Linked DNA regions of Homo sapiens. The protein of the gene in region 2 interacts with the protein of the main gene of each other region in a biochemical or structural test. Each region holds a gene or a part of one and is shown on either strand. Other genes may lie near its edges. The genes, in order: CTNNA2, DLG2, ABCC4, ABCC6, CD226, JAM3 and EFNB2.

The links.
Region 1: the proteins of DLG2 (region 2) and CTNNA2 interact in a test that uses a peptide from one of them, tested with the Homo sapiens proteins (one large-scale study listed by IntAct).
Region 3: the proteins of DLG2 (region 2) and ABCC4 interact in a test that uses a peptide from one of them, tested with the Homo sapiens proteins (one large-scale study listed by IntAct).
Region 4: the proteins of DLG2 (region 2) and ABCC6 interact in a test that uses a peptide from one of them, tested with the Homo sapiens proteins (one large-scale study listed by IntAct).
Region 5: the proteins of DLG2 (region 2) and CD226 interact in a test that uses a peptide from one of them, tested with the Homo sapiens proteins (one large-scale study listed by IntAct).
Region 6: the proteins of DLG2 (region 2) and JAM3 interact in a test that uses a peptide from one of them, tested with the Homo sapiens proteins (one large-scale study listed by IntAct).
Region 7: the proteins of DLG2 (region 2) and EFNB2 interact in a test that uses a peptide from one of them, tested with the Homo sapiens proteins (one large-scale study listed by IntAct).

Annotation. Positions count from the first base shown.
Region 1 is NC_000002.12:79,908,051-79,911,550, reverse strand, and holds part of CTNNA2 (catenin alpha-2), read right to left. Parts: intron 1,958-3,500; coding exon 1,754-1,957; intron 1-1,753. UniProt on the Homo sapiens protein: May function as a linker between cadherin adhesion receptors and the cytoskeleton to regulate cell-cell adhesion and differentiation in the nervous system. Required for proper regulation of cortical neuronal migration and neurite growth.
Region 2 is NC_000011.10:83,454,673-83,458,008, forward strand, and holds the end of DLG2 (disks large homolog 2), read right to left. Parts: 3' UTR 501-3,336; downstream 1-500. UniProt on the Homo sapiens protein: Required for perception of chronic pain through NMDA receptor signaling. Regulates surface expression of NMDA receptors in dorsal horn neurons of the spinal cord.
Region 3 is NC_000013.11:95,291,452-95,294,951, reverse strand, and holds part of ABCC4 (ATP-binding cassette sub-family C member 4), read left to right. Parts: intron 1-3,500. UniProt on the Homo sapiens protein: ATP-dependent transporter of the ATP-binding cassette (ABC) family that actively extrudes physiological compounds and xenobiotics from cells.
Region 4 is NC_000016.10:16,153,995-16,157,494, forward strand, and holds part of ABCC6 (ATP-binding cassette sub-family C member 6), read right to left. Parts: intron 1,861-3,500; exon of another isoform or gene 1,798-1,860; intron 1,038-1,797; coding exon 879-1,037; intron 801-878; coding exon 634-800; intron 1-633.
Region 5 is NC_000018.10:69,937,874-69,941,373, forward strand, and holds part of CD226 (CD226 antigen isoform a precursor), read right to left. Parts: intron 1-3,500.
Region 6 is NC_000011.10:134,067,888-134,071,871, reverse strand, and holds the start of JAM3 (junctional adhesion molecule C isoform 1 precursor), read right to left. Parts: upstream 2,801-3,984; 5' UTR 2,789-2,800; coding exon 2,713-2,788; intron 1-2,712. UniProt on the Homo sapiens protein: Junctional adhesion protein that mediates heterotypic cell-cell interactions with its cognate receptor JAM2 to regulate different cellular processes. Plays a role in homing and mobilization of hematopoietic stem and progenitor cells within the bone marrow.
Region 7 is NC_000013.11:106,494,163-106,497,662, forward strand, and holds part of EFNB2 (ephrin-B2 isoform 1 precursor), read right to left. Parts: intron 1,679-3,500; coding exon 1,586-1,678; intron 833-1,585; coding exon 719-832; intron 1-718. UniProt on the Homo sapiens protein: Cell surface transmembrane ligand for Eph receptors, a family of receptor tyrosine kinases which are crucial for migration, repulsion and adhesion during neuronal, vascular and epithelial development.

The DNA.
Region 1 (3,500 bases), on a different chromosome or scaffold from region 2:
TGCATGAGATTACACTGAAAGAAAAACTTCTAGTTGGCAGGATTCTAGACACCAAACTGAAAATTACATGTCACGTGTTGATCAACTCTTATTTAGTCACGTTCTGTGATTTCTATTTAGAAGAACATACTTTTTTGTCTGATTTATTTATATTGAGATCTTAACCATCACTGTGATCTCTGTAGTTTCTACTTCCTTCTTTGGCAGTAACTATTCATTAATAGAACCACTAGCGTGCCTTAATGTAAAACCAAATTCCACATCCATGTAATTAGCCCTTTGCTATTTTGTTAACAACAACAACGAACAAACAAACAGCGTCTCAGATTTCATAAGCATTCTTCGTTGACACATCTGCTATTCAAAAGATTCACTCAGCTGGGAGACTGTGGGGTCAACATTTCTAGCTGCACCCTACGTAATACCATGGATCAAAATTACAGAAAGTGTTGGTCATCCAGGGTCCTATAGAGACGTCCTCATAAGCAGCTGGGTGCCACATGATGCATCCACATTTTATTCTTTGTGTGCTGAAAAAGGCCAAGTCTTCCAAAATCAAAGAATCTGAAGGTTCATGGAAAGGAAACAAATTTTGTTTTTTTTAGTTTGTTAGGTTTTCTCATTGACATCTTTTTGCTTTCTCAGTGAGTTCTCTGGAGGGTCAGCAGGAGGAGCACTGCTACTGTCAACACTCATTCCTTGCTTGCATGTCTGTTAGCTACATATTTTTACTCATGATGGGAGTGGTAAGATGCTGGAGGGAGAGACACTGAATGGCTGCTTTGTTTCAGCATTGCCTCGGGGTGTTCTAATAATACCTAACATGGACTTCAGTAGCTGTGAGCAGATTTTCAGTGTCTCTGTTACCCACCTGGTAGCTATACAGGGCATTCCTTCAAAATGTAATATCGAGACCTCACTTTATCTACATTTTTCCCCAATTTGTGCTAAATTATCTCAAACCCGAAAGTCCAGGAAAGGGGGAAGCACAGATCATCCACTGTTGCAAGCATCGCCTCTGCTGAATGAATGTAGCAAATCAATACAGCCATAATTTAGTGCCTTTCAAGGCAAAGAATATGAGTTTCATCACCTTCTTGCAGGTTACAGGTACACAGAAACTGTCACATTTTACAACTATAGGAGAGGATGGCTATTATGTGCCAAAATACAATTAGATACCAGTCATACATACCTATTTGAAAACTTAAGAGACTCACTCTTATAAGCAATTCCTGACTATGAATCAATAAAACACCTCCAAATTTTACTACATTTAGAACTTTTCCTTAAACAACCCTATCCACACGTTTTTTAAACCTAGTAGATTTATTAATGCCTCTTAGGGGTGAAGATTCGCATCTACAGCTATCCTTAGGTTTAAAAGTGCTCTTTGTAACAGAGGACTTACTATATCCTCAGCTGTTTCCATCAATCATCTACCTTTACCAATTGAAATCTTACCTACTTCAAAATGCAGCCACTAAAATGACCGAGAAGAAATCAGCCAAGTAAAAAGTGAAAGAGCTTATTCTCCATCCACCTGTTCCATATTAAAACAAACAAACAAAAAATGGATTCAGAAACAACACACACGACACGCGCTCTCCCAAAGCAGTTCTTTGGTTTCACCTGACTCTCTTTGGTAAACACCTGGTCTGTTCTCTTTTCCTGCTATCTATGCTTCCAAAAGAGCAACACGATTGCAGAACAGAATCCACCAAGACATGAGAATGGAGATCCCAAGACTTACATTATTCATGTACTCGCTGAGCAGGTCCTGGAGCGCCTGCCGCACGGCGTTGCACTCCGCCACGATCCTCTCGCGCCGGTCGTCTCGCGTGCAGGAGGAGTCGGCCATCAGCGCTGCGCCGCTGATGATGCTCTCCAGCCTCTCCTCCAGGGACGGCCGGAACCTGGCCTCGCTGAACGTCATGGGGTCCAGGATAATCTTATTCTGAAAGTATCACACACACACACACAAAAATCAGCAGAGAAGAGAGGTCTGCCTTGGCACCCTGTTTTGAAACCAGAAATATCTGAGGCAAGAACAGGAGTCCCCAAGGAGGAGAAACTGGTTACTCAAATTCTAAAGTTGCCTTGACAAAGTATTAACTTTTTCTAGATATTTTGTCCTAAATGTAATCTTCAGCTAAAAGAGCACATCTTATTTGAAGAATATGTTCTTGGCAAAGGCTATCTCAACGGAAGAGCTTTCAAATAAGATTAGGACACTTTTTTGGCATTTTTAAAATACGTAGCCTTTAAGGAAAGAACATTTCAGTGTAATGCTTTGGGGAATTATATAAAGATTTTAGAGCTAAAACATGATAAATAATCAACATCTTAATTATGCATTAGCTGTGGCTTGTATACACACACGTTAATCCTCCTCATGAGAAGCAGATATTCCCATGGCAGGATGCCTTTTGAAACTTGGGCACATAACACCCAACAGGCATATTCAGTACAGGTTAATTTATGCTAGTGTTCTAGAAAAGGATTCCTAATGTGTGTATGAGACTTGTCACAAATAACTGACAGTATCCTTATAAAGGTATTTACCTGTTTGGAAGGAGCCTATATAAGAGGAAAATAGTGATATTTCCTAAAAGGAAGGCGTCACATAGAACATGAGCTTAGCATTTCCCCAGCCAAGTTTTAGGAGCCTGGAAACATGTGGGCAGAGATGCCCCGAGGTAGATGGAAATATGCGTCCAAAATTCAGGAGCTATAACAGTCTTTATAGGGATCTGGTAAATGTCAGGGGTATTTGGACATAAACTAGTGAATTACATACTAGTAAAGTGAATAGAGCCAGAAGAGCAGGCCAGAGAAGACCCCTATACAGAAGGACCAGAATCAAAAAGGAAGACAGAAAGGGTAGTCAGAAAGATAGAAACAGAACTTGGAAAACTCCCAGCAAATGAGGAGGGTAGAGCGTGATGGTATGTGATCATTAACTGTGTGAAGTCTAGAAGCAAAGGTGACATTGACCAAAGGCTGGTTTCCTTTGGGGAGCCTTTTCTGCCTGAAGCAAAGAAGTTCATTCCACAATGATAAGGTAGAATGACCTGCTGCAGGAAATGGTGTGCTTCATTGGGGGTGCACTCTCAGAGGTCCAAGAACCAGAGTGGCAATGATGGGGCAAATGGTCTTCCAACTGTAGAATACTATGGTGCAATTGCCACTCTGTTACTGCTTCTTTTGACGTTCCTTATTCCTTATATATTCACCAAATTTAAAGAGTTGTAAGAAAAGAACAATTTACCATATTTACAAATACAATACGAAACATAAATGAGAATAGGTAGTTATTCTATTGCTAATCTGCACCTGCCGAAGACCTACTATATGCCTACTACTGTACTTAATGCTAAAAAGAAGGGGAGATAAAAGATGCTTTTATGGATTTTTTATGCTGATGTAGTATATACAATAACTGCTTAAGTTATTACAAAGTGAAGTCCAGCTGTATGCTCTGGGAAAGTTTGTTGTAA
Region 2 (3,336 bases):
ATTTTTCTGTATCCTTAATATCTTCTGGAATCCCACAGTTTGACACTGGGAAATTGATTTTTCCCCTCACATAGCTGTGAGCATCTTTAAAAATCTATCTTTTAATACATTGTTCACTTTTGGAAAAATCCCGATTAAAAGCAGGCAAGATGGTAACCAAATATTTAAGAATATGCAAAAACAGCACTTTCACTTCCTCTCAGCAGTGCCAATACTTCTCAGGGCATACCCACCCTAATTGCATTTTAGCTCTGGAATCAGAGACAAAATTGATAAAAATAGACATGAGTGATTCTATTCCTTATGAAATAAGACAAATTATGCTTTGGGAGAAAATCATTTGCCATAAAGTATAAAATGTTTTAATATTTATATCTTATAATAAAACCATGACATGTTTATAAACACTCTATCAGGCATTTTTACAATGGGGCCACCCACCGCTGACAACTAGAAACGCAATAAATATGCACAGACACACTGAGTATGAAATATACATCTTGATTTTATAATCGTGTGTGCTTTATTTTTTACACAAATGGAATGGAAGTGTTGAATATTTACACTTAACAGGAGTGTAAGCTGTGCAGTGTCTCTGTAAACTCCAGCCTAGGCAAGGAGTATTCCCACCTCCCTCCCATCCTGTGCTACAGCTCGGTGGAGAAACATCCTGTCAGAGAGAAGCACAAAACTGTCATATTGAAAGGATCTAACGGGTACAGCCTGGTGCACTCAGAAGTTAAGAAACACTTAGGAAACACAAACTCAAAAAGGAGAGAAGAAAAGTCTGCCATCCCATTGGGAGTCAACCTTGCCACTTGGTTGTCTGTCCTCATGAGTTGCTAGGGAGATACTATACTCTTTAGATGATCTTTGTCTAAATTGTCCGCCTGTCTTAGCTTTGTCCTCAGCTGTTACAAGAAACTGCACAGCTGTACAAGAAATGATTTCCAAAGCACAGGTTTCAGTGAGGAAGGATATTTACAGACTTGAGTGTGTGTGTGTGTTTCCAACCACAGTCATTCATACTCAATGTAACGTGTGTACATGGTATACATACCATATATACCATACATACACAGAAGTAAAATGTATATCACAGAATTCTGTAGGGAGTCCCCTGGCAAGTCAGCTGTCACAGGAGGTACTCCACATGCTTCAAGGGAATTGATCTTTTTCCCTCTAGGAGTAACAAATTAATGTGATCAACTTAGGAATTAGCCTGAGTCCTTGGCTTAAATATATTTGTAGGAATTTAGGCAGGACCAAGACAGGAAAGAAGAGATTTCATTTCACCAGCAAGTCCATTCAGTCTCACCAGAGCAATCACCAGCTGAAAAGCAGAGGGGGCTTCACATAAAAATGGGAAAAAGAAAGCTTATGAATGGGAAAAAAATGTCTCTCTCCAAACCAAGGTGATGGCATGGCTTCAATGAGGAGGAAGAGGTTTGCTATCAGAATAATTGGGGCCAGAGTCTGCCTTTATTGAAAGAAAATGTCCTCAGAGCCATGCGGTAGTGCTGGGAGTGGGCTCGCTTAGGAGCAGTGTTCAGGCAGAGGCACTCAGGCGCCGGCAGGGCCCACAGCACATGCATCATCGCTGCCAGGGCAACGGTGCAGGCTGGCTCCGGGAGGCGGGCTGGAGCAGGCTCCAGGTCAGGGCCTCACGCTCAGCTTTACTTTCTGGGCTGAGTAGGTGAAACGGCGACCTAAAGTATTTGTGTCATTAGTCCAGTGCATGGACTTGCTGTCTGAATCAGCCATGAGCCCTTTAGAGGACAGAAAAATCAATACAGGGATGTACGGGAGAAGATGATCAGAGATTTGAGGAGAGGAGAAAGGACAGAAGAGGAATAAGAAGGGCAGAGAAACAGAGACTAAAGGAGAGGTGGACAAAAAGAGAAAGGGAATAGAGAAGGATTATAGGAGAAAGTCAACAACTCAGAGATGGTGGGAAGGAGGAATAGGAAAAGGAGAGGAACAAAAAAAAAAAGAGATGGAATTAGTCGGAAGTAGAAGGAGGAGGAGAGTAAGGAAAAGAATGAGAAAAAAAGTAGAGTCTCGAGCCAGAGGTTGGAGAGTTCTTTCCTGGCTCGGAGTCCTGAAGGGCCGGCAGTAGGATCTAAGACAGCGCACAGAGGCACCCGAGTGCAGCTTTGTGAAGACAGGCTCTTTAAGCAGACAGAGCCAACCCAAGAATTTGGGGCTGGGAAAAAAGGCCTGCAAATAAATAGCCAAGAAATCCCGCAAAAGGCCTGCAAATAAATGGCCGACAATTCTGTGGGAGGAGAGCAAAAAACAAATGCCTCTGCACTTAGCTGACAAATGGAATTTTGATTTTGGTAAAGCTGAGACCCCCGTGGTGCTACACATTGTACCAGAGCATGAAAAATAGCACCAGTTACACGATCTGGCACTTTTCTGAAAGGGCCCAGCATGTGTGAAGGTGACATTGCACCCCCAGCAAGCCTTCAGGTTGGAGAGAGCTCTGGACAAAGTTTGCAGTGTTAGCACCAGTCTGGCCCCAGGCTCCGAGTGCATTTGCACCAGATGTAATCTGGGTAACTTTCATGCCATTTCCATACAAGTCATCAGATTTGCTGCAAAATACACCAGTTCATTGGAGCCATAGAGACATCAACATTGGGAAGTGCAAGACAACACAACAAATGGAGGTGTAAATTCTATTGGAAAAGACCCTCTCACCAATTTGCTTGGTGATTCTTCAAGCAAATATATATGTATCTATATATTTATATAAATCTACATAAAAAAATCAGTGCAAATGCCAATTCTAATCTGAAAGCATCTACACTAGGAAAATAAATAGTTATATTACTACAAAACCAAGGGTTGGTGGTTCAATTTGATTGTACTTAGCCACAGCAACACTAGTAAATGGAAAGCACATCACACGACCCGCGAAAACATCTACTCATTAATGACAGTCTTTTAAATAAATGGTTGCATGCTCAGTTGAGAAACCAAAGAAGTTATCGTGGTGGCCTAAAAATAGAGCTGGGATCAGGAATGGCATTCTGGTGTCAGAAAACTTCTGGGAGCAATATTGATGAAAGTAGGCCTTGACCTGAAACTGGCGAATTGCAGACATGGACATATCTTTAACATTTTGAGCAATCTAAGGAAGTCTCTGGAAATTTAACTTTCATGAGAGGGAGAATGCATTGCTAGCCCTTCCATTGGCAAAGGAAGCCTCAGGACTATGGGAAGATGCATAATTTTGCATTTCTGTTTTGTTTTGGTGACTGTAGCCAGGCAGACAATGATGTTTAGCGTAAGATGAACAATGCCTGTTTTTGGAAAGAGACTCTCATT
Region 3 (3,500 bases), on a different chromosome or scaffold from region 2:
ATGGAGTTTCACTCTTGTTGCCCAAGCTGGAGTGCAGTGGCGTGATCTCGGCTCATTGCAACCTCTGCCTCCGGAGTTCAAGCGATTCTCCTGTCTCAGCCTCCCAAATAGCTGGGACTACAGATGTGCGCCACCATGCTCAGCTAATTTTTTGTACTTTTAGGAGAGATGGGGTTTCAACATGTTGTCCAGGCTGGTCTTGAACTCCTGACCTCGGGTGATCCACCCACCTGGGCCTCCCAAAGTGCTGGGATTACAGGCGTGAGCCGCCATGCCCAGCCTGGACTATGTTTTCTACCCCAACCTTGTGGTCAGAGGTGACCATGAAACTGAGACCTGGCCAATAGGAAGTGGTTGCAAAAGGTGTCTCGCTTCCACGACTGGAACACAAAAACCAGCCCCATGCAACGCCTCTCCAGCTGAATAAAGAGGCCTCCTGGAGAGGAGGAGGACTGAGAGGAGGCCGAGCCGCAAGATGGTGAAAGTCCAGCTAGGAGTAAATGTATGGTGTTGTTCACCACCCTAGATGGCCCAAAAGGGGACTATAGCATGACAATAGGCATGGTCTTGGTTTCTTGTTTTCTTTTTTGAGACGGAGTCTATCTCTGTCTTGCAGGCTAGAGTGCAGTGGCGTGATCTCGGCTCACTGCAACCTCTGCCTCCCGGGTTCAAGCGATTCTCTTGCCTTAGCCTCCTCCCAAGTATCTGGGATTACAGGAGCTCAAAACCACGCCCGGATAATTTTTTATTTATTTATTTATTTTGTATTTTTAGTAGAGAAGGGGTTTTGCTGTGTTGGCCAGGCTGGTCTCCAACTCCTGACTTCATGTGATCCACTGCCTCGGCTGGTGATTTTGAATTAAGCCATTGAGAATCAGGGCTTGTTTAATAGCTAGCATTATTTGCACGATACAGTGGCTGCCTCCCTCATTGTGTGAGCTCTTTGAGAACAGGAATGGTACTTTATTGTAATGGATTTGCACCTGGCAAGAAAGAAGGCACCCTGCCTTCTTTCATGGTGGCACATGCCTGTAATCCCAGCTACTTGGGAGACCGAGCAGGAGAATCGCTTTAACCCAGGAGGTGGAGGCTGCAGTGAGCCAAGATTGCACCACTGCACTCCAGCCTGGGCTACAGAATGAGACTCTGTCTCAAAAAAAAAAAAAAGCAAAAGAAAACGTAGTCCAGGCTGGGTGCGGTGGCTTATGCCTGTAATCCCAGCACTTTGGGAGGCCGAGGCAGGTGGATCACAAGGTCAGGAGTTCAAGACCAGCCTGGCCAACGTAATGAAACCCCGTCTCTACTAAAAATACAAAAATTAGCTGGGCGTGGTGGCATGCACCTGTAGTCCCAGCTACTCGAGAGGCTGAGGCAGGAGAATTGCTTGAACCCGGGAGGCAGAAGTTGCAGTGAGCCAAGATCACGCCACTGCACTCCAGCCTGGGCAACAGAGCGAGACTCCATCTCAAAAAAACATAGTCCGTGTGTCCAGCAGTCGCTGCTGCAGGAGTTCATCCTGAACCCGTGTTGGGTGTGCTGGAGTAGAAGTATGGAAAAGCTGTGTGAGGGTGGGGATTTTGTTTTTGTTTTTGTTTTTTGAGATGGAGTCTCTGTCGCACAGGCTGGAGTGCAGTGGCATGATCTCGGCTCACTACAACCTCCGCCTCCCGGGCTCAAGCGATTCTCCTGCCGCAGCCTCCCAAGTAGCTGGGATTACAGATGTGCACCACCAGGCCTGGCTAATTTTTTTGTTGTTGTTAGAGACAGGGTTTTGCCATGTTGGCCAAGATGGAGATCTCTGGGGAGGGGTTTACCTTCCTGTTGGAGCTTGGATGGAGAAGGTGGGAAATCGTTCCTGGCAGGGGATGAGATGTCCAGGTCACAGAACTGCAGTTGGAGAAAGTGTTGCCTGAGACGTGTGGCGAATGACCACCCCTCAGTCGCTATGTCGTCCCTGCCAGCCGGTAGCGTTTGTTACACCCAAGGTTGCCCTCCCCTCTTTCATCCCAGCAGATGTTCAGACTTTGCTTCTCCCACTTCCAGCCCCTTACTCATGAGTACTTACAGCCCTTTTGTGGCCTGCGACGTAGCTCCTTGTTCCATTTCTGGGTTCCATGACCACTTCCGTGCTGGTCTGTTTCAGGCCTAGTCCCTGTCTGCTCTTTTCTCTGCGCTAGCTCCTATCTTCCCCTTTTCCTTAGTGTCATAGAATTAGTGGGTTGAAAGGAAGAGATCTTCTAGCCCACACTCAGTACAGGAATCCCTTCCAGATACTGGGCAGTGGGGAAATGCATTATGTGACTCTCATGACTTTAGATTCGAATGCCAGAATTATGTTGTATTGAGCCACAGTTTTCTTTCCATGCAATTTCTACTTGTGTTTACTTACTTCTAAGAAAAGCATTACAGAATTTAATGAAGCAAAGAATGATCTGTGAATCAAGCAGCTCCTAGAACCAAAATAGGTTCAGAGCCGCTCTCCTTTGTTTTTTTGTCAACACGCAGAGCAAGTTGGCTACCTCCCTTCATATGCTCGCCTCATAGTATTCAAAGACAGCTATCATGGCCACATTAAATCTTTGTTTCTTTGTTTGAGACAGGGTGTCACTCTGTCACCCAGGCTGGATTGCAGTGGTGCGATCTCAGTTCACTGCAACTTTCACCTCCTGGGCTCAAGCCATCCTTCCACCTCAGCCCCCTGAGTAGCTGGGACCACAGGTGTGTGCCAGCATGCCCAGCTAATTTTTTATATTTTTTGTAGAGATGAAGTTTTGCCATGTTGCCCTGGCTGGTATTGAACTCCTGGGCTCAAGTGATCCTCCCGCCCTAGCCTCCAAAAGTGCTGGGATTACAGGCATGCGCCATGGTGCCTGGACAGGAGTTTATTTTTGACCCTGTTAAGTTTGAGATGCCTGCTACACATTCAAGTGGAGATGTTGAATAGGCATTCAATTGGTCATGAGTTTGGGGCTCATGGAGAAGTTTATCTTATTATTATTATTTCTTTAAATGGAGTTTCACTGTGTTGCCCAGGCTGGCGTGCAGTGGTATGATCTTGGCTCACTGCAACCTCCACCTTCTGGTTCAAGCAATTCTCGTGCCTCAGCCTCCCGAGTAGCTGGGATTACAGGCACGCGCCACCACACCCAGCTAATACTTGTATTTTAGTAGAGATGGAGTTTCATCATGTTGGCCAATGTGGTCAGGAAGTTTATGTCAATTTGGGCATCATCAGTGATACATGCAGTTGAGCTATATTGGACACATGGCCAATTGACCTCACAGTCCGCAGGGCTTGTCCCCATGTAACTGCTCTTCTATCCCTATGCAAATTCATTTTGTAGATGCTAACGTTTAGCAGCTCATTGTTGCTGTTGAAAGTTCTTGGAACACTTTCGTAGTCTGAATGCTAGAAAGGATGGGTCCTAGGAATGTCCTCTAGGTTGTGGCAGATCCACTAATCAACACTGTGGTTGCTAGATTAACTTGGCCACAAGTGT
Region 4 (3,500 bases), on a different chromosome or scaffold from region 2:
GATGGAGTGCAGTGGTGCAATATCGGCTCACTGCAACCTTCGCCTCCCTGGCTCAAGCGTTCTTCCCACCTCAGCCTCCCAAGTAACTAGGACTACAGGTGCATGCCACCATACCTGGCTAATACTGTTGTCCACAGAGATAGGGTCTTGCTATGTTGCCCAGACTAGTCTCGAACTCCTGGGCTCAAGCAATCCTCCTCTCTCAGCCTCCTGAAGTGCTGGGATTACAGGCATGAGCCACTGTGCCCAGTCCACACTTGACATTTACCAAAAAAAAAAATCCTATATTATAGTCCCAGTGAGTGGTGAGGTTACCACCCGATATCAAACAATATTTTCATAGCAAAATAAATACTGAGCAAGAGCAATAAAGGCTATCAGTAGCCCTGTGTCAGTTGAGGTTGGGTTTTGCCACCAAGTAAATATAGAAGACTAACTGCTAATTTAGGGGGGAAAACCTTGGTATTCAGAGACTGTGTCAGAGCTTGGAATTGCAGATAAGAGACATGTGGTTATTAATGTAACAGAGTGATAATCCTATCGGGGGAGGCATTTCCTGAAGGCCCTTGGGGAGGGCATGGCCATCCCCTCCTCTCCCACCTGCAGGTCCCAGCCATGGTGGGACGACCATACCTCAGGTCCTCGCCTCGGTCAGCACACTTGTACTGCAGCTGGCCGGGCAGGCTGGCCACCAAGGCTTTGAGCTGCACCGTCTCCAGGGCTGCCCAGATAGCCTCGTCCGAGTGCTCCTGCAGCAGGTCGAGGTTCATCCGCAGAGAGCCAGGGAACAGGATGGGGTCCTGGCGGGGAGGGGCGGTGGGTCAGAGCCGGGTCCCACCATGCCTCCCATCTTTGCCCACCCCCTCCACCAGCCTCACCTGGGGGATGATGCTGATCCTGGAGCGCAGTGTGTGCAGCCCCACGTGGGCAATGGGGACCCCGTCGATCCAGATCCCACCCTCAGCTGCCTCCTGGAGCCGCAGCAGCCCACTGGCCAGGGAGGACTTCCCTGCCCCGGTCCTGCCAACGATGCCCACCTGCCCGGGGTTGGGAGGAAAGGCCTGCTCTGACCAGAGGGTTTGTGGGCATTTATTGGGGAGATCTTTCTGCTGTACCCGAGATCTGTCTATCCATCCCTCATTGTGTAAAGGTCTACCTTCCATCTCTCTTTCCATCTGTCTACCTTTCTATATATCCACCCATCAATCCATCCAGTCTTCCATCTGTGTTCTTCTCTATCTTTCCCTTATCCTGATATCTCTCTCCCATCTTTCTCCCCACCCTTCCTTTAGTTCCTCCATCTTTCCTCATCCTTCTATTTACACCTCTCCATCATCTCTCATCCTTTTTTCTACCCCATCCCATCCATCTGTCTGTCCGTCCATCCATCCCTTATCCTTTTTTCCACCCCATCCTGCCATCCATCCATCCATCATCCATCCTCAATCCCATCCCTCCATCTCTCTTCCACCCCATTCCATTCATCCATCCATTCATCTGTCTATCCGTCTCTCGTTTCTTCTTCCCTATTCATCCATCAATTCACTAATCCTTTCATTCATTTATTTTCTCCCATCCATCCATCCAGTCCATCCTTCCCTCATCCATCCTTCCATTCATCCTCCATCTTATCCATGTGTCCATTCTGTTATCCATCTCCCATGCTGTTATCCACCCTCCATCCTTATCTCTCTTGCTACTATTGCATCCTCAGTGTCTGACACATGGTGTGGGTTCAACATTATTTGTTTAATTAATGATGGAAACATGTGGGTCACCCCACTGTATGCCAAGTACCTGTTTAGGCACCGGAAGTATAGAAATTAAAGAGTCCTTGCTCCAGTGTGCCCATCATCCGGTCTAGGAAACAGTGCAATTGAGTAAATGTAATACAGTGTGATGAACAATGCTTTATTTATTTATTTATTTATTTATTTTTGAGATAAAGTCTTGCTCTATTGCCCAGGCTGGAGTGCAGTGGTGCGATCTCAGCTCACTGCAACCTCCACCTCCCAGGTTCAAGCAATTCTCCTGCCTCAGCCTCCCTAGTAGCTGGGACTGCAGGTGCCTGTCACCATGCTCGGCTAATTTTTGTATTTTTAGTAGACACGGGATTTCACCATGTTGGCCAGGCTGGTCTCAAACTTCTGGCCTCAAGTGATCTGCCCACCTTGGCCTCCTAAAGTGCTGGGATTACAGGTATAAGCCACAGCACCCAGCCAACAATGCTGTTTATTATCAAGGTCTGGACCTCTGGCAATTAAGGGAAGCAAGGCAGTGCTGCTCATGCTGCCTGGGATTTGACAGAGGTAATAAGAGAAGACCTCATGGAGGAAGGGATACTTGCATGGAAGCTTGAAGGATCAATAGGAGTTCAAGGAAGGGGAACACTCCAGGTAAACCACACCAAGTGGGTTTCCAAAACTAGAAGCTCATGGAGCTCACAGCACCATGTGCCCCCCTGGCCGAGAGGCAGCTGCTCCACAATGTTGGCTAAGCCCTGGCAGAGCAATGAATGAGAGGGGGAGGTTGGCAGGGCCTGGGTTGGGTAGAGCCTTGAATGCCAAGCTCAGGAATTCACACTTTACCCCAAGGGAAGCTGGAACTAGTAGAAGGTTTTGAGCAGGGGAATGACATGCAGTGTCATTCATGCTGATAAAGGTCACAGGATGGCTGGGCATGGTGGGTCATGCCTGTAGTCCCAGCACTTTGGGAGGCCGAGGGGGGTGATTGAGGTCAGAAGTTTCATAGCAGCCTGGCCAACATGGTGAAACCCTGTCTCTACTAAAAATACAAAAATTAGCCGGGTGTGGTGGCAGGTGCCTGTAATCCCAGCTACTCAGGAGGCTGAGGCAGGAGAATCACTTGAATCTGGGAGGCGGAGGTTGCAGTGATCTAAGGTCACACCACTGCACTCCAGCCTGGGCAACAGAGTGAGACTCTGTCTCAAAAAAAAAAAAAAAAAAAAATCACAGGAGAGCAGATTGGAGCTGGTGAGACAGGATCCACTGCTTTTTAGGGGACAAGGAGAGGACAGGGAGGAAGCCTCTGTAGGTTCAGAGGGAGGGAGGAAAGGGATTCAGTGAAGGGGCCTGATGAGGCATCTGTAAAATGGGATAGTACTAGCACCTCACTTAGGGGTTGTTGTGAGAGTGAAAACGCAAATAATAAAAGCATTAGTAAACATTTCTGGAGCACTTTCTATGAGCTAAGCATGTTCTATGTATTAACTCAAACTTCACAACAACTCAGAGATCAGTATTACCAGTCCCAATTTACAGATGGGAAAACTGAGACTGAGCTATGAAGTGCTTTTCCCAATGTCTCCCAGCTGAAAGCAAATATCCCATTTGTGCAAACTGGAAAATGTACCTGGAGCATTTAACACACTGCCCAGCACATATTAGGTGCTGGGTTAATGTTAAAGGAAGAAGGAAGTCACGGAGTTGCTTCCTCATCTGGGGACACCAAGGTGGATGAGGAAGTCACCAGATGGAAGC
Region 5 (3,500 bases), on a different chromosome or scaffold from region 2:
TCTGGAGCCCTTAATATTAAAGGAATCTCTTTAGTGCCACTAACCAGCAGATATATACAAGAATGAAAGAAAACTTTGGCTGCTATGTCAGCTGCTGGGAACCTGGACAGAGAACACTTGTCCCTGAAGGGTGTAGAGATAAGAGCCTTCTAAGAATGAGCATGGATGGCATATAAGGAGCCTCATCCCACCTGGGAGAGAATGAGACTCTTAAAGGGAAACAGTGAGGAACATCTCTGTGCCCAGTTTGAGATAAATGGACTGGAATATGGGAGATCACAGAGTCAGCAAACATACAATACAGCCAACACAAAGTACCTGCATGTGTGGAGCAAGAAAATCTAACCCTCTACTATAAATATGAGTTCTATGTGTCTTCTGCTCTCACATCAATAATTCACCTGTTCACTTTCCTCTCCCTCCCAACTCTCCCCCTCTTTTCTCTATGCCCTCTACATTCTTTAACATGAACACCTTCTTTAACACACTACAATGTGACCATCCTCCAAGCCACAAGCTATGACCTTAGACTTCTGCCCCCATCCATTGGTACTTTCTTAGTTAACCCCATCCATCCACATGTGCTGGATGATCATTCAGATGACTTCAAATTGGATATTTTCAATCCTGGTTTGTTGTTCCATAATTTCAATTGTCAGCTGGTCAAAGGCTACTTTACAATTTAATACACCTGAAACAGACTTAATTCCACTCTTGCTAGCCAAGTTGGTCTCTTAATTTCACATCTTTTTCACTAAAATCATCATTTTTTAGTCCTTGGATCATAAAAATTTGAAACCATTGCTGAAACTTACCTCTACCTGGCCCCCAGGCCATATCAGAATGAAGATTTCATCCTTACCTTAGAGCTTTCAACTGCTCAAAAATTGCAATCACATCTCTTTTCACCATTAGAAATCAGTAGATTTGGCCAGGCAAGGTGGCCTATGCCTGTAATTCCAGCACTTTGGGAGGCCAAGGTGGGGTGGATCACCTGAGGTCAGGAGTTTGAGATCAGCCTGGCCAACATGGCAAAACCCCCATCTCTACAAAAATACAAAAATTAGCTGGGTGTGATGATGCAGGCCTGTAATCCCAGCTACTCAGGAGGCTGAGGCAGGAGAACCACTTGAACCCAGGAGGCAGAGGTTGCAATGAGCTGAGATCATGCCACTGCACTCCAGCCTGGGCAACAGAGTGAGACTCTGTCTCAAAAAAGGAAAAGAAAAAGAAATCAGTAGATTTGAAAGAAATCTTCTAAAACATTTTGAGACAAATGCAAAATAAAACACCTGTATAAGGAAAACACCCTGACTATGAGCCTTAAAGACCCTTTCAGCCCTTCCTGATTCTATTCTATCCCCCACCTACCATGTTTCTGAACTTTGCTTTTCTTTATAGTTTTACCACGTTTGTATCTATAAATAACGTATTGTTTAATTATGCATATTTCTAAAACCTTTAAAGAAAAGGAACCCTAGTTTACCTATTTTTTTTGGTAACTTGCTCTTTTCTTTCAACACAAAGTTCATGAGCTTCATCCATGTCGGTGAGCAAGTGATAATTCACTCATTTTAGTGATGTAGAGTATCCTAATGTGTGAATAGACCTCAGTGTGCTTTTCGGTTCTACTGTTGATGGGTATTTGGGTTGTTACCAATTTTTTGCTATTGCAATCACTGTTGCTATAAATATTGTCAGGAATTTTCCCTATAATGAGAGAACTCTTGGATACCAAACAGAGTAGAATTATTGGATCATAGGATTTGGGGTTTTTAACTAGCTAATGCCATATCATTTTCCAAAACAGGTATGATGGTTAATTTTACGTGTCAATTTGAAGGGTGTTTTGGGATGAGATTAACATTTAAATTGGTGAATTTTGAATAAGCAGTTTGCCTCCATAATGTAGGTGAGCCTAATTCAACAAAAAGACCAGCCTCCCCAAGCAAGAGGGATTCTGCAGCAGATGACCTGGGCTTCACCTGTACCATCGGCTCTCCTGGGTCTGCAGCCTGCAAGCCCACACTGCAAATTTGGGCTTATCAGTCTCCATGATCATATGATATAATTTGGCCGTGTGCCCACCCAAATCTCATCTTGAGTTGTAGTTCCCATAACCCTCACGTGTCGTGGGAGAGACCAGGTGGAGATAACTGAATCATGGGGGTGGTTTCCCCCATCCTGTTCTCATGATAGTGAGTTAGTTCTCATGAGATCTGATGGTTTTATAAGGGGCTTCCCCTGCTCTGGGCACTCACTCTTCTTCTCCCTGCTACCATGTGAAGGACATATTTGCTTCCCCTTCCACCATGATTGTAAGTTTCCTGAGGCCTCCCCACCCATACTGAACTGAGAATCAATTAAACCTCTTTCCTTTATAAATTACCCTGTCTCAGGTATGTCTTTATTAGCAGCATGAAAACTGAGTAATACAGTAAATGAGTACAGCAGAGAGTGGAGGGTTGCTGTAAAGATATCCACAAGTGTGAAAGCAACTTTGGAACTGGGTAACAGGTAGAGGTTGGAACAGTTTTGAGGGCTCAGAAGAAGACAGGAAAATGTGGGAAATTTGGGAACTTCCTAGAAATTTGTTGAATGACATTGACCAAAATGCTGACAGTGATATAAACAATGAAGTCCAGGCTGAGGTGGTCTCAGATGGAGATGAGGAACTTTTTGGGAAATGGAGTAAAGGTCACTCTTGCTATGCAAAGAGTTTGGTGGCATTTTGCCCCTGCCCCAGAGATCTGTGGAACTTTGAACTTGAGAGAGATAATTTAGGGTATCTGGCAGAAGAAACTTCTAAGGGGCAAAGCATTCAAGAGGAAGCAGAGCATAAAAAATTTGGAAAATTTGCAGCCTGATGATGCGACAGAAAAGAAAAACATTTTCTGGGAAGAAATTCCAGCCAGCTGCAGAAATTTGCATAAGTAATGAGGAGCCAAATGTAAATCACCAAGACAATGGGGAAAATGTCTCCAAGGCATGTCAGAGACCTTCATGGCAGCCCCTTCCATCATAAGCCTAGGAGGGAAAAGTGATTTCCTGGGCCAAGCCTAAGACCCCCTGCTCTATGCAGCCTCGGGACTGCATATGGTGCCCTATGTCCCAGCCACGGCTAAAAGGGGCCAACATACAGCTCAGGCTGTTGCTTCAGAGGGTGCAAGCCCCAAGCCTTGACAGCTTACACGTGGTGTTGGGCCTGCGGGTGCACAGAAGTCAAGAACTGTGGTTTGAGAACCTCTGCCTAGACTTCAGAAAATGTACAGAAACACCTGGGTGTCCATTCAGAAGTTGCTGCAAGGGCAGAGCCCTCATGGAAGACCTCTGCTAGGGCACTGCAGCAGGGAAATGTGGGGTTGGAGCCCCCACACAGAATCCCCACTGGGGCACTGTCTAGTAGAGCTGTGAGAAGAGGGCCACCATCCTTCAGACCCCACAATCTGAATCTGATCCACAGACGGCTTGCACCATGCAACTGGAGAAGCCACAGACAC
Region 6 (3,984 bases), about 51 Mb from region 2:
ACTGCATGCTTTCAAGACAGGTGTTCTTTGTTTTTTTTAAAACATACACACAAGTCTGACAATGATTATATCTGCCAGATAATTAAGAATTAGAACATAAAAGAATATGCCATTCTAAAAAACGTTACTGGAGTCCAAACAGATGCAAATAAAAGAATTAAACATTTTTTCAAAAATTTCCCAGAAATTTTGATTTTCAGATTTTGATATGCTTCAGCACACAAGTTGTCTTATCTGAAGAATGAAAACTGTTGCTGTTTTAATTCTAAATAAGGCACTTCTCTCTAGAATATCAAAGATTTGGAAACCTAACACTAATGAGTACACAATCATTCAAAAAAGCCATGTGGCATAACATTTGTAAAGCTGAACTGCACCTGTCATGAGTCAACAAAAGAATATTTTATATACAAACCACATAGTGTTGAAAACTTGATAATCTGTTTAAACTGATCCATTAAAAGAACTCCACCGTCAAATGGAATAATACAAATAACTAAAAATTGGATTAACACAAATAATGAAGGATTTCCCATTTAAAACGCACAGGATAACACTCCCGACAAGGGTCTGAATCTCTCCATACTTCTGTTCCCTCATCCACAAAAGGGCACAACAATAGTAACGACTTCTTAGAGTTATCAAGATTAAATAAATTAGCAAACATTAAATTCTTGTAACAGAGCCTGGCAAAGGGTAACCACAAAAGAAATGTTTGCTGTTATATCAAGAACCAAAATTTTTAAGATGAAAATAAATAGTAATAGCAATTGAGAATAATCATAAAAAATAAAAAGGACACAGTAGTCATGACTTCTGGAAGAACAGTTTTAGGGTAGCTTAAAGCATAAACCAAATAATGGAAAAAGAGCCCCTACTAAAAAAAAGATAGCTACACGCCTTCAAAGTGGATTCATACATCCTACTACCTCGATTATTTGTCATTAGAACTAGTTTGCAAAATTTGATTCTTCCTCCTACGCTCTGCATGTGAATCCCAGCCCCTACCAGCAAAAAAGCCACAAAACTAGTCCCTTAGGGGAAGGAAATCAGAGGTTAAGGGTAAGTGAAGCTCTTTGCATTTTCTAGTTTTATTAACAAACTACCAAGTTGAAATTCATTCCTGAGCTAAACTGCCAAATGCTTCTGCAACAAAAACTGCAAACTTTCACGTGAACAGATCTTTTCAACAATAGAGAGTTGTTCCAGGCTGTGAATAGGACAGTGTCAGTGTGACCAACACAGCGGGTGCTGGACATTCCTGACACCCTTGTCCCCTGGCTAGCCTTTGATCACTTATCTCCCAACAGCATTTGGTTTTGGGAATCACTTTCAGGCAAAGTATACAGACTTTGCCTTAGCGTACATAATCTATACGCTAAAACTCATCTTTTGTCACAGCCCATCACGAGCATCCCATTAGCATAAAGCACCAAACACAGGAATGCTTTGTTTTCCAAAATCTGTCCACCTTCACTCCTAAACAGTCCCTCCGTGTTTTAATTTGTATATTCTGGAAAACATCATGGGATGACAGTGGCAATTCAAACAATAAAATAATCTAAGAACCGAAAAAGGTCCTGGTCTGGTTACCTGCGGATGGCTGCCAGGGGAAGAGTGTGGTGTCCTGCTTTAGGTAAATATGAAGTTGAGGCTTCACTACTTAGAATGCAGCCTTGGAAAGCAGACTAGACTTGACTCTGAAAATGGATTAATGAAACCTATCTCACAGAGCTGCTGAAAGGAGTAAACGAGATAATGGCTCCAAAGTGCCTAGTAGACAGTACAAGCTCACTAAAGGAAAGCTATTTTAGTCCTCTGTACAACTGTCCAGGAAAATGTGGATCTAATGAGAATTCCAAACAGAGGGAAAGAAAATGCACAAAACTATCAAGTTTATTAGTGTGTCTTGATCAAATGCCCCGAATGCTATTTCCGGATAAGAGTCTGCGTGGTCTCCTCGGCCAGGCCAGAGACAAAAAAGGTACTGGATTGATATCCATTTTATTTCTGTAAAAGAAAAGCAGTTCCTTTGTGTCGAGTCAAATGAACTGCAGATCCCCAGAGGGCTGTGACCAAGCAGCCCGCCAGGCCTCGGAGCTCTGCCTCGCCGGTCCTCAGCTACGTCCCCCGCTCACCGTCCCTTCTGGAGAGCACAGCACTGCTGCGCAGGGTCTTCCAGCAAGTTCCAGCGCCCACGCCGCAGCTGCCGCGCTCCCTCCAGAGGGCCGTGCCCACCGCCCGGGAGGGGTCCACCCCGGGGACGAGCCCACCGCCCAGCACAGGACCCCGCCTGGGAGGAGCCCACCCGGGGGATGAGCCCACCGCCCAGCACAGGACCCCGCCTGGGAGGAGCCCACCCGGGGGATGAGCCCACCGCCCAGCACAGGACCCCGCCCGAGAAGAGCCCGCCCCCGGGGTCCGACGGCTGTCCGGGACCGACTCACTGCCTGGGACGGGCCCCCCATCCCAAATTAGCTCCCCGCCCCGGTCCAACTGCCGGGCGTCCCAGGGCCCCCGCCCTAGCCAGGCCCGAGTCCCAGCCCTGGCTGCGGGGACGCGGGCGCGCGCCGCCCCTCCGGCCCGGGACCCCGGGAGCCCTCGGAGCCAGGACCGCTATCCTCGCCCGGACCGGCTCCAGCAGCTTCGGCCCGCTCTGCTTCCGTCGCCCCCAGACCCTAGTCTCCCAACAGCGGAAACGCGCAAACTCACCCCTGAAAAGCAGCAGCAGGAAGAAGTCAGGCAGCCGAGCGCAGAGCCGGAGTCGCGGTGGCCGCCTCAGCGCCATGTCGAGGGTTGCTGAGGGGCCAGCGGCAGCGCGGCGCGGCTTGTAGTCCCCGCGCGCATGCGCCCAGCCTGCCAGGACCCTGCGACCCGCCCCAGTTACCATGGCGACCGCCGGGCCCAGCCGAGCCGGCACCATGGTGACAGAGGAAGCTGAGGTCTAGCTGCTTACGGATGCAGCGATGCTCTGGACCGGCACATGGGTTCTCTTTCAATGAACTTGGCGGGAGGAGAGTAAAGAAGTATGTACAAGAGTGAAGCAGGGTATATTTCCATAGCTATAGAATAAATCCATCACAACAGGTCGGAGAAGGAACACTCCTTTAAAATTTGGGAAATAAAGTATTTCTTATTTTACAAATAAGGATGCAGCCCAGTTATCTTGGAAGCATTATCGCCTTCACATCTTTTGGGCCCCCAATTCCAAATTGATGGAAGGAAAAGAGCTGAAATCTGCTTAAAACATAAGCAATACATACATTATACAGCATATAAAAGTGATGTCTTGCTAAAATAATTTGTTTATGTGGTAGATCAAAAGCATGATGGCATACCCAATAGTTTATTCTGCAGAAAAGCAGACTAATTATTTGCTCTGATTTCTGAATACTGGGAGATAGTAAAACCAGGGAAGAACAGGTAAGATGAGGACAAACAGGAAAAATGAAGAGAAGGATAAATTAAAGCAGAAATTAGATCTAAAAAAGCAAGAGTATTTAAAGTCTCACTTAATACTATGGAAAATACTTGAAAAGCTTGTATTTTAGCAAGTATAGAAAGTACACCTCCAATGTTCCCAGAAACAGCAGTCTAGCAACAGAATTCTGAATATAATTGTTAGTAAAATAAGCCAGTTTCCAACTAATATTTTTAATGTTTAACTTTTTCATATACTCATGCTACTTTTTTAGTATTTTTAGTTTTCATGCAAAATAGAAGTATATTTACATATTATGTATACCAAATTTATATATGTAAAAGCCGGGAAACGTGAAATAGATTGAGATTGTTGCCAAGAATATGCTTCAGTTTCCATCACTGTATAATCTTCTTTGTAAATCTTTATAACTGCTCAGATCTTTATGTTAATTGATTACCTTCTCAAAAATCTTATAAAGACAGAATAAAAATTAAAAAATAACTCAATTACCTACTATGATTCTGTCTTTCCTTTCATAAATCTTCTTTATGTTCCAGGTC
Region 7 (3,500 bases), on a different chromosome or scaffold from region 2:
GATGGAATATTGCTGCAGACGATAAATTTGCACAACGACCAAGCAAGCACACAACAATCCTAATACAAAACTGCTGATGTCTGCTCAACAGCTACTCTATAAAACCTTCATTAGCATGGTAACAAATACAGAACTATTTGTTCCAAGACTGTTAAGAAAACGAAGGTCAACGACGGACAATTTTATCTGGTATTCTACACTTTTGTCAGGGACCTGTTTAATATTTTCTTTTACATGGAAAATGTGAAACAAAATAACGATAACCACCTGAAAAAATACTATTATGCAATATTTAAAAATGTTACCATTTAAAATTTAGAAGAGGATCAATTAAACCCTCTGTGGCTTAGATATAATTAGATGAGGGATTAGCACATTAATTACATATACATTAACATCAGCTTTAAGCTGGAGTTGACAACCAGCTTGATAAAATGTCAGCCAATGAAACCTTTGGCCTGACAGAGTAGTTCTAATAACTGGCACTTACAGCTCATGAACTCTACTCCTTTGAATATATGACTTTCATTGGAATGAGTTATTTTGTTCTTATTGAGTGTAATTAATAATGACTCACTGACAGCAAAGATTCCTGATCACTGTAACTTCCAGCTAATCCTAACTGGTTAGAAGTCTTTAGACTCTGCCCTACCTTTTAAGATACTACTAAGAATGTGGTACCCACAGACCTCCATACACACAGATCATGCTGTTATACCTGGATTTGGTTTTACAAAGGGACTTGTTGTCGAACTTCTTCCATTTGTACCAGCTTCTAGTTCTGGACGTCTTGTTGGATCTTTATTCCTGGTTGATCCAGCAGAACTTGCATCTATATGAAAAACAAATGATTAATTACGGCACAGACATCTGACAATATCTAGCTTTAGGAGCTGCATATATATTTCAACAGGCATGAATAGCAATGAACATAAGAGTCTTTATGCAAAGTACTGTGAAATACAAGAATATAATTTTTCTTTTAAAACAAAATGGTTATACTAGTTATTTCAGAGGTTTAGAACGTGAGGCCATCTGTGGAAACTATAGGGATTCTTGCATTTGGCAGGCAAAGCATTGCAGATGACATTTCAATTTAACTGAGCAAGTTGATTGACTACTATACCAATTTTTAATTAGAAGAATAATTATTTCTTTCTGCACAATAGGTTATCTATATTGGAAAAGTCACAATGAACAAAACTCTTCTGTAGTCAAGATTCAGAAATGAGCAAAACTGCACAAGCTTTTAGTTTTCATTCTGGATATTTTGATTTTGAACCAAAGTGTTTTGCTTTTTAAAAAGAAATATCTATCTATCTATCTATCTATCTATTATCTATCTATCTATCTATCTATCTATGGCAATAGACATTCTACCTTGCTGATCTTAACTCTTAGATCTCCAATAAAAGCTTAGTACATTGACTTGAGGAAATCTGTCAGTGGCTCAAAGTGCAGAAGGGTTTGCTTTGAAAACTAAAAAGAAGAGCGAATGAAGGTGGGCATCGGCAACATTAGCACCATACTAGCTGGGGGCTACACCAGGTCACAGTGGCGTCATGAAGCAGCAGATGGTCTTTACCTTGTCCAACTTTCATGAGGATCTTCATGGCTCTTGTCTGGCACACCCCTCCCTCCTGGTTATCCAGGCCCTCCAAAGACCCATTTGATGTAGCTGATTAAAAATAAAATGGACAAAACAAAAAAATAAAGAAAAATCAGGAAATCAATAAGCCAAGTTTACATGAACATGAAATGTCTGAAAACAATTTGAAAAATAAGAATTCACTCTTAGTCACAAGTTTTCTGAAAGTATGGGGATGCTGAAAGCCAAAAAGAAAAAGAAAAAGAAATAAAGAGAAATGGATATCGGAAACACTGCCGCACGTATGCTATCTGACTCCAAATTTATTTAGGCACTTTCTCCTTCCTTCACAAATGACTGATTTAATGTTAGTCTATAAATAAAAGGGATGGCATCCTTCAAAAAGTCTATGGACTCTTTTGGGGCCAAACTCAGAAGAGCAAAATAGTTAATGCAGCCATTTCCAAACGTGGTAATCATCCCCCCACACCTGCTTCCTCCACTGCAGATTTCCTGCTTCAAGAACAATTAGCTTGACGCTCTGTTTGTCAAGCATCCAAGTTCTGTAAACACTAGACCAGGAGCCTCCCACAACCCTTGTCTTCTTTTTTCAGCCTTATGCATGCTTAAGAAGTATACCAGAAATCAGGTCTTCAAAATCTCCCCTTTTTCCTCCATCGTTTTGTAAATCAGAAGAACATACGTGTTATTACTGCCAATGTCAACCTTAGTCAACCTCTTCAACCAAACTACCTGTTGCGGGAAAACTCTGGCTGAATAGAGGGTTCACACACATGCCCACCACTCATTCTGGGTCCTGTGGCAGCCCTGGAGAGAAAGTGGGGACTTTTACCAGCCACTTGCTGGTGTTCACCAACTGAATTCCCTCTCCACCTCAGCAGTGAGGAGTGGAAGGAAGGACAGAATCATTTTACCATTTTCAGCATTTTTTTTTTCAACAGCCTATGCTCTATTTAAACACATCCTTGTTCTGTCTCTTTAGACCAGCGAGGTCTCTGAATAGCTTTGTAACTCAAGCTGTAAAGAGATAGGCTGCCAGGTACTTTAATGAGAAACAGGCTTTGAATTACAGTTCAAGTTCCAGGAGAGAAAAGAAGGTGGAGAGTGCTAGACATTTTCATTCCCCTAAAGTTCAAGGGGCAAGGAACAAAAGTGTTTCATATACATTTCTGCAATTTAAATCCATTTTCTACCTGATTATCAAAGTCTTGGCTTGTAACACTGTACTTTGCAAGGGACTGAAAAAAGGATTGATTTTCTGGTAAAAATAAATCCCAAAGACATTCTTCTAATGGGATTGTTTGTTTTCCAAACAGTAGGTCAGCAAACAAGTTCTATATGCATTTATGGTAGAAATATGCATTCCACTGAAATTATATTAACTACAAAAATAAGGCACTTATTTACTTGTCTTTGTGGTCTTGAATTAACTTTACTTTCACTGTTTTCCTCAAAACAAAGACTGCCTCTTCTGTGCATACATATCACTGTGCTTCTCTGAGTGCTTGCTTAAACTTTACAGTCTCACAATTGCATCTCATTCTTCTGTAACTGTGGATAAATTTTTCCCGGGAAACTGGGCAATAATTGCCATAATAATACTTGTCTTGGAAGGGTAGTAAGAAGCAGACAGTATCTGTTTGTAGATACAAACATTGTAGACCATTAAGAAACTATTCAGCAGACAGCTTAAAAAAAAAAAAACCTAAAAATTTTGTACACTTCTGTGAATCTAAAAAAAATCTTTTTAATTATTTAATGGGGCTATTAAAATTTTTTTTTATTATACTTTAAGTTCTAGGGTACATGTGCACAACGTGCAGGTTTGTTACATATGTATACGTGTGCCATGTTGGTGGGCTGCGCCTGTTAACTCGTCATTTACATTAGG